Linked DNA regions of Homo sapiens: region 1 is linked to region 2. Evidence: fine-mapped expression QTL. A gene starts in region 2. The other region holds a variant in brackets. All regions are shown on one strand. Distances are from middle to middle.

Evidence for each region. PIP is the estimated chance that this variant, and not a neighbour inherited with it, causes the effect.
Region 1: its variant is the best candidate, but not a certain one, in a credible set for the expression of PLEKHG7 in tibial nerve (GTEx, PIP 0.76).

Annotation. Positions count from the first base shown.
Region 1 is chr12:92,749,991-92,754,384 of GRCh38, reverse strand. PLEKHG7 (pleckstrin homology and RhoGEF domain containing G7) reads right to left here. Exons shown (of 17, transcript NM_001377329.1): 11 at 121-295. Among named protein-coding and RNA genes, the nearest start is that of PLEKHG7, 49 kb to the right of the region's middle. The variant C/T (reference allele first, on the strand shown) is at 1,924.
Region 2 is chr12:92,701,040-92,705,433 of GRCh38, reverse strand. It overlaps PLEKHG7 (pleckstrin homology and RhoGEF domain containing G7), which reads right to left and starts at 2,445. Exons shown (of 17, transcript NM_001377329.1): 1 at 2,302-2,445. RefSeq lists an enhancer at 2,245-2,304.

The sequences.
Region 1 (4,394 bases), 49 kb before region 2:
ATTTCCAAGAGCCATGACCTCAAATCAGTGGAATTACCTCCTAGGATGGAAGCCCAGAAGGTTTCCAGGAGTCACAAGGCCACAATTCTGTAATTAAGCTCACTTATCTCAGGGACTTACGGATGGACTTTTCCACCTTTTCCTTGATGGAGTAGATCATGATTTTCTCAGCAGAGTCCATGCTCCTTTTCCAGATATTCTTCAGCAACAACGGATATCGAGTGAGCCTCTGTAGTGGGGCCACTAGCAGCTCTGGCACGTGGAGCCGTCTGCATTGTTCATTCTGCTCACACCACTGGGGAAGGCAAAAGCAGCCATATCAGAATGATCACCTCTCCCACTGAGCCACTAAGAAGCCTGGATATGAGAGGTTCTTGGAGATTTTACTCAGTAACTGCAGGACCTACTTGTGAGTTTGCTGGGACAATTTATAAGCCACAAATTAAATCCCCTGAAAAGTGCATGTTCCATTAGCAGTAGTGATAAGATGTAGTAATAGGTGGGTTCCAGCCTTGTTTACCCTTCTCATTGGAGAGTGAATTTAGTTTTGCCCATTGGCTTTTCTTCCCTGGCCTTCAGGGGAGAGTTCTGGTTTCATCAGCTTTGGTCCCATCCTTGTTGTGATGCAGTTAGGACAATTGAGAATTGAGACTGGAGAGGCAGAAGGGAAAAGGAAGGATTCTTGCTTGTTGGGTCAGTTCCTTGACTCCTCTTAGTTGGGGAGGATCAGGGTAATGATCGAAAATGAAGAGAAATGAAAATAGAAGATAGAAGTTGAAGAGGCTCAGTTGATCTAGAACAAAGAGAGGAGAGGAGAGAGGTAGAGATGCGGACAATTTTCAATAGGGAGAGTTTGGAGTTGGGGTTTGGAAGAAGAGGCAGTTCTAGGGTATGCCAGCACCGGGGAAGACAAGAAATTTTAGTAATTTAGTAATTGTAGTAAGTATTGCCATGGGTTATCCATTGGGGTTCCATAAATGATGTTTGAGAAACCTGAGTAAACATGAGAATAGCTTTTACGCTTGTTTTATCTGCTGTGCTGTTTCTTTGAATGTGAGCTTCCTTGAACGTAAGGGGCTCTGGCTTTAATGAAGGTGGCAAATGAGGCATGGACGTGGTTGCTGGCCAGCATGCAGATGGGTACATCAGGAAGGAGTATAGGGGTGTGTGTGTTCTCTTCCTCTTCTCTTACCCTGAACACTCACACCAAATTGACCCTGAGTTCAGCGATAAAGGGATTAATATCAACTGAATGTTTGCTTTCCTTCAAATCCACCTAATATTACTTTTAACGCCAAAAACTGCAATTACTTTTGCACCAACCTAATAAAATCCTAACCTTCAGTGGAGCGGCATTAGGAAGTGGGGCTGTTGGGAGGTGATTAGGCCATGAGCATGGAGCCCTCTTGAATGGGATTAGTGTCCCTATAAAAGGGGTCCCGGAGAGCTCTCTAGCTCTCTTTTCACCATGTGAGGCTACAGCGAGAAGACAGCTGTCTGCAACCCACAAAAGGGCCATCACCGGCCCCTAACCATGCTGGCACCAGGAGACTTTCAGCCTCCAGAACTGTGAGCAACAAACTCCTGTTGATTATAAGCCACCCAGTCTATGGTGTGTTGTTCTAGCAGCCTGAATTGACTACAACAGGGATCCTGCCTTTACACTAAATATTTCTCCTGCTGCAGGCTGTTGCCTCATTTCCACCTTCCATTCTCCTTTCATTCTCCAGGTTAAATCCTTTGCCTTGTGACCCAGACCCTTCAGGGCCATCCTCAGGTGGGCCAGGCACACTGCAGGAGACTCCTGCTGCATCCCCAGAGATGTCTTCAAGCCCACGTGTCAGTCCTTGCATTTTGAAGATCTAGGTACAATTAGCTCAACCCCCCACCAATCCAATGGCCTGTGGAGGTCTAAACTCCTCC[C/T]CTAGATATTTACCAACTCATGGGACTGAGATTCTAACATCTTCCTCTGGCTCCTGGACTCTTGTTTCCATGTATACTGTTTCTTCCCTGAACAACATGGAACAAACATATCCCCTTGGTTTCCTATGTTAGTTTCTGCTGTAAACCCCCTCATGACATGTTTTGTGAGTATACGTATTTATTTTACTGAAGATTTTGGGTTGTGAAGAGGGGTCAAATACACAGCCCATGAGACCCTACTATTTTGCTGGCTCTATTCTCTTCTTTGGAAAGAGAGAGTTCTTTCTCTCTTCCCCCTTAAACAAACCCTCCCCTTTTATCTCCTAGCCTCTTGCCTAGCAATTTGCATTTGTCTTTCATAGCTTGACCATGTCCTTGGTGGGGTGAGGTGGGGTCTCACTCTCCTCCCACACTATCAGCTGTTTTTTTTTTTTAAGGGGGATGGGGAACAGGATCTTGCCCTGTCACCCAGGCTGAAGTGCAGTGGTATGATCATGGCTCACTGCAGCCTTGACCTCCTGGTCTCAAGCAGTCCTCCCACCTCAGCCTTTCACATAGCTGACACCACAGGTGCAGGCCACCACACCTGGCTAATTTTTAAATTTTTTGTAGAGACTGGATATCACTATGTTGCCCAGGCTAGCCTCAAACGCCTGGGTTCCAGCAATCTGCACACCTCCCAAAGTGCTGGGATTACAGGTGTGAGCCATAGTACCTGGCTCAGCTGGATGTTTTGGAAAACATCCTGGGCTCTTCATCATGGGGATTCTGCCAAATTCAATCTTCTTGGCCGGGCGTGGTGGCTCATGCCTGTAATCCCAGCACTTTGGGAGGCCGAGGTGGGAGGATCACTGGAGGTCAGGAGTTCGAGACCAGCCTGGCCAACATGGTGAAACTCCGTTTCTACCAAAAATACAAAAAAAAAAAAATTAGCCAGGCATGGTGGCGCACGCCTGTAATCCCAGCTACGCAGGAAGCTGAGGTGGGAGAATTGCCTGAACCCGGTAGGCAGAGGTTGCAGTGAGCCAAGATAGCACCACTGCATTACAGGCTGGGCAACAGAGCAAGACTCTGTCTACAATTCAATCTTCTCCTCTCCCCTGTGTACAGGTGGCTGGCCATGAGAGTGAGCTCACAGTGCATGGTGAATGGAGCTCCAGAAGCCAGGCTCCAAGGACCACCTTCTCTCTCTGGACCTCCGATTTCTCTTCTTAGACAAATTAGGCAACGTGCTGAAAGATATGGTTGTTCTAGGGCAGAGGTAGGATTTGAATTCAGACCTGTCTGAACCCGATGTTCAATCTTCTACAATGCTCTGTTGTAAACAACATTCTTGTAGAACTTAAGCCTATGTTGTGTTATGGGCTGCCTGAAATCGACCTATAAATGCAGTGGGATAAATTTACCCTTCATACCACATGAGGCTAAGCTTTATGAATGTATGTACTTTATCTTGATGTATATTAATGGGATTAGAATTTTTCCAACTGTTTTATTTTTATTTATTTATTTATTTATTGAGACAGGGTAGGTCTGACTTTGTCACCCAGGCTAAGTGCAGTGGTCCAATCATGGCTGACTGCAACCTCAGACTCCAGTGTGGCTAGATGGCTCTTGGCTAGATGATCTCCAAGGTCTCCTCCAAATGACTGTGGTTCTCATTGAGGTTGGCAGGGATGGAGACAGAAGTGAGCACGACAGATGAAGATAAGGCTGGGAGTGGAGGGGAGCAGGGCTATGCTTTAGCGGCTGATTTCCATGTTGACTCACGGGCAGCAGCGTTCCAGTGCTACCTTCAGGTCCTGGACCTCTTGGGTGGCTGGGAGTTCTTGTAACTGATTTCTCAGCAGCAGTTAGGCCCCTGTCCTCCCAAAAAACTCACTGCCCCAGGCCACTGCCCCAAATTGCCCTGCTGTGGGGAACAGCTGTGGCTGCCAGCGTGCACTGGTATTCAGGGTCAAAGTGAAAACACCAAACTCCTCCAGGTAACAATTGGCAAGAAGCATCCGTGGTAAATAATTTAGAGAAGGATCCAGGCAGGGATGTTGGAAGCATTTGTATTTCAGAAAACTTCAGAAGAGACAAAAAGAATGGCTTGACATTATAAAAGTAAAGCTGTAAGTTTTCCTTTCATCTCTCTATTGACTTCATTTTTCAGGTCCGTTAGGGAAGGCAAATAACACTTCCATTGAGAGAGATTGGACATAAAAGGCCTTTTTATTGATAAGTCTAGATCAATAGAGGCTACTTTTGCTTTATAATAAGTATCCAATATGCTTAGGGGAACTGTGAAAGGATTCAAGGGCCCCAGATGAAAATATGTCCTGTCGCTTGAGCAAGGGAGGTTGAGGCTGCAGTGAGCCATGATGGTGCCACTGCATTCCAGCCTGGGTGACAGAGTGAGACCCTGTTCCAAAATAATAAAATAAAATAATAAAATAAAATAAAATAAAATAAAATAATAAAATAAA
Region 2 (4,394 bases):
TTTACTTCTTATAATTTTAATTGCATGGGCAATACTTTTTAGTAGAACTTTTCTAGGGTGTATTATTTGCTTCTTTAACTTGATATAGAGAAGGCTGAAAACCAATAAACCTTTTCCTTATAACCTGACCTCATTCTGTTGACTATCATTCTAGTACTTTGCCAAAATACAGTGATTACTACTATGTTTACTATAGTTCTGTGGAGAATACAATAATTGTTACAGGCTTCTATAGCATCTGAATATTCACTCCCACACCAAATGGCCCCACACCAATGTACTCCCTAATTTTTATTCCTTACTTCTCACTATGCTTTTTGTACTTGCCTATGGCAACCACTCTCTCCTCTTTGTTTCTTTTAATCTGTGTCAGTCATAGAAGTCCAACAACCTTGTGAATAGATAATTAATAGGTTGTTAGATCTATTCCTATCAGTAGAGGAGGAGCTCAATGTTATGACATTGTCATGACAATGTTGTGACTTGACATTGATTTTGGGGACTTTGTGGTCTCTTATTTTACTCCCTGACTCTTACCTTGTTTAAGGTCAAGTAAGTCCAGGCACAGAGGCTCATGCCTGTAATCCGAGCACTTTGGGAGGCAAAGGCGGGAGGATCCCTTGAGCCTAGAAGTTCAAGACCAGCCTGGGCAACATAGTGAGACCCCATCTCTATAAAAACCTTTTTAAAATGCCAAATGAAACTAACAGGTACTGGATTTCAGACTGGTGAGTTGTTTGAGGAACAACTTAGATGCAAACTAACGTCAATTCAACTCTTATTCACAAAAGAAATCTAAAATTCTTAATGTTGTGTTTGCTTTATTTTGAGCTGAGGACTCAATTGTTATAGAACTTCACATGTAGAACTAAAACCCATGAGGTACCCTTTTTTGCAGAGTGGAGGAAAGAGGGCAATGCCAGTTTAGGAAACTTATGTTCAGTTAAGGTGAGATTGTACTAGTTTTGGTTTTAGATTGGTAATTCCTGGAGGCTGCTCTGAAGGTTGATACCAACATTGCTGGAGAGGTATGAAATGGTCCCTCCCTACCATTGATAAAATAAGGTACATTGTTGCTACATGGAGAGGCCAGTTCCTCATTCTCCCAACAAACAAATGCTGAGCTGAGCATCAAATCTATAGGTACTTTCTTTCTTTTTTTTTTTCTTTTTAGAGATGGAGTCTGGCTCTGTCGCCCAGGCTGAGTGCAGAGGTGTGATCATATCGCACTGTAACCTCAAACTCCTAGCCTCACAGAATCCTCATGCTGCAGTGCTCCTGAGTAGTTGGGGCTATGGATGCTTACCACCCCACCCAGCTAATTTTGAATCAATAGGTACTTTCACACATACATACAATCAGGGCCGTTCTATTATTTTTCTCCTTTAGAAGACTGTCCAAGTTCTAGGCAGCAACAATGTTAAAGGAATTCAGTATATTTGCATAGGCACTTGCATAATAGTTAGATCAGATTTCTTAGTCTTTGGGTTTCCCCTCTGTCCTTCTGGCCTTTTCCTCTCCTCTTTTGAGGGGTTAGGATACGGCTTTGGGTTTCCTTTGTAGTCGTTCAGACACAGGGGTGTAGCTGCTGGTAGGAAGTTATTTATGGCCAATAGGATTCACATCGGTAAGAATTATTTATTAGCCACTGTCTTAAATATTGGAACCAAGGCAATAGTAACTGCCGACATGATGCACTGCGGAAATGGAGAAACTTTAAAAACAGCAGGGCTTAGGGAGGTGGTTTGCAGAAAGGCAGGAAGAGCTCAAGCACCAGAAGAAATGGGTCTGGTTTCTCTTCCAGTATCACCGCCAATTGGCTGTGTGACCTAGGACAAGCCACTTCTCCTCTGCCAACTGCCATGCAGCATTTACCAAGAGGACATCAAAGAACCTCCCTCACAGGCCTGTTGCAGAAATTAAATGAGATAATGGCTAAGGCTCCTGGGAAGCTTTCCCTAAATGACTACACCCAGTGGATCTGGTAGAATCAAAAGTTAACAAGTCAATCCATTCATGCTAACTCTTCTTTATGTTTAAAAGAGGAAATTAATACATGGTCACCATAAAGAAAATTCACCAACCTTTGACCTTCCAAGCTTTGAGAATCCAGCAAACACCCACCCACACTGTTGGGGAAGCCATCTCACTGTACTAGAAATGAAACCATTGCAGGTTAATGATTCACTAATTCTAATGAGACCTGGAGAGATCAGCAAAACAAGCGAAACTGATAGCAATAGGACAAAAGGAAAGTGCAAGAGAGAAACCCAGAAAGCAGCTGAATGTTGCCTTTAATACCTGTAAGATGGTCTGTCCCTGAAGGCAACTGCACCCAGGTGGGTCCCGAGGCTCCTCAGAACCCGCAGATCCAGAGTGAGCTGCCAGGCGAGGGCTCGGAGCAACAAGTTCCACACCTGTAACAATGCGTCCTCCTGGCTGAGTGAAAGCAACCTTGCTACCAGCTGCAATGAGGAACTGGTCTCTCCCCTCCTTAGAGACATTTCCAGTTATTTGTTTATGAAAAAGCCTAAAGGGAAGCCAGCTCAGAATCTAAGGCAGCCTAAGAACAAGTCAGGTAAACAACGGCTGATCAAATACAGAAATGATGCAAATGTAACTTTTTACTTCCTCTTGAGGCATTCAACAAATCATCACTCATAGTTCAGTGAAGCAGTTCTAGGTTTCTATTTCATTTATTTTCTCTAAGGTTGTGAGATGCATTCTTTGGGACTCTACTTTCTTCACATCATAAAACATTTTGTGTTGATCTATTTTATTAATGACTTGCTTTGATAAGCATTGAATAGTAGAGGAAATGATTAGAGCACCAGGGAGTGAATTTGTGAACATTAGTTTTCAAATAATTAAAATGCAAATGGAAGAGCATTTATATCTACCAGTATTCTCATTAGATCAGTACCCCAAAGAATATTTATTTGATGCCTAGGTGGAGATAATGCATATGTATGCAGCATTAAACAAAAATGTCTATAGACTTTCCCAAAACAAAGTTGAAGTAATTCTAATGAAGTCTAATTCACTGAAGTTTTCATTGATTGGACTCATTACAGATACTTACTGTGAAGGTTCCCTGAGGTCGGTAGTTCTTAAAGTAGGGTCCCTGGACCAGCAGTATCACTATGACTTGAGAACTTGTTAGAAAGGAAAAATCTTCCCCCTCCATGCTCTCCAACCCCTGGAACTCTGGGATGGGGTCAGAAGTCCGTGGTTTTTTTTTGAGACAGGGTCTCACTCTGTCACTCAGGCTGGAGTGCAGTGGCACGATCTCAGCTCACTGCAACCTCCACCTCCTGGGTTCAAGCGATTCTCCTACCTCAGCTTCCTGTGTAGCTGAGATTACAGGTGCACACCACCAGGGCCCGGCTAACTTTTGTATTTTTAGTACAGACGGGGTTTCACCATATTGGCCAGGCTGTCCGAACTCCTGACCTCAGGTGGTCCACCCACTTCGGCCTCCCAAAGTGCTGGGATTACAGGTGTGAGCCACTGTGCCCAGCCAGAAGTCTGTGTTTAACAAGACTTCCAGGTGATTCTTACATGGGTTAAAATTTGAGAACCACTGCCCTTAGAGGAAAAGAAAAAAAGGTCTAACTTATAGATGTTGGCCTTGTGATAAACTTTATATTAGTCTTTAATTCTCTCATATTGATCTTACTAGAACATCATTTACTTAGAACTTTGAAAAATGACTTGATCTCCTGCCCTCACCACCATTGCCAACATTACCATGACTCAACCAAAAGCAGGATATCAAAAAATATTTTGCCTGCATGGAGCCTGCATAAACAGTTCTGAGCTCCTGCCAAGGATGTCTAGAAGTGAATTGCTTCAATTTGGGAAGGAAAAAAATGAATAAAGTCTTTTAGCTTTTAGTTTGTGGAAGGAAGGTCATACTCTTTTCTACCAATCCCCTCACGCACATGGGATTGTAAAGCTGTCTCTCCTAGGGGATAATGATAATGGAATACTTGATCCCAATGCAAAAACTTCCAACCTCTGGTTGTAACTTCAAGAAGGAAATTAAGAGTCTTATAGAAAGGTCACAAAAGATTATCACGGAAAAAAATGTGCCACCTCCATCTGATTTGTCAAGGAGATGGCAACAGGGAGGCATTTTGGGTGGGGAAGGGACACCCCAGAGTCAGCTTTTCCTTTAAGAACCTGGGGCAACCTCACTGTGGCCCTTTCTCAGATGACACATGGAGGTGCTCTCCAATATCGCAGAGGGAGCAGCTCGCCTCAGCATTTTTTGCCTGTGTGTAGTTTTACGTTTATGTATGCTTTGCTTCAATAAAAAGTATACCTTAAAAAGTATGTCTATGCTAAAAGATGACATCCTGGTTTGCTTACTTTATGGCTTTGAATTGGCA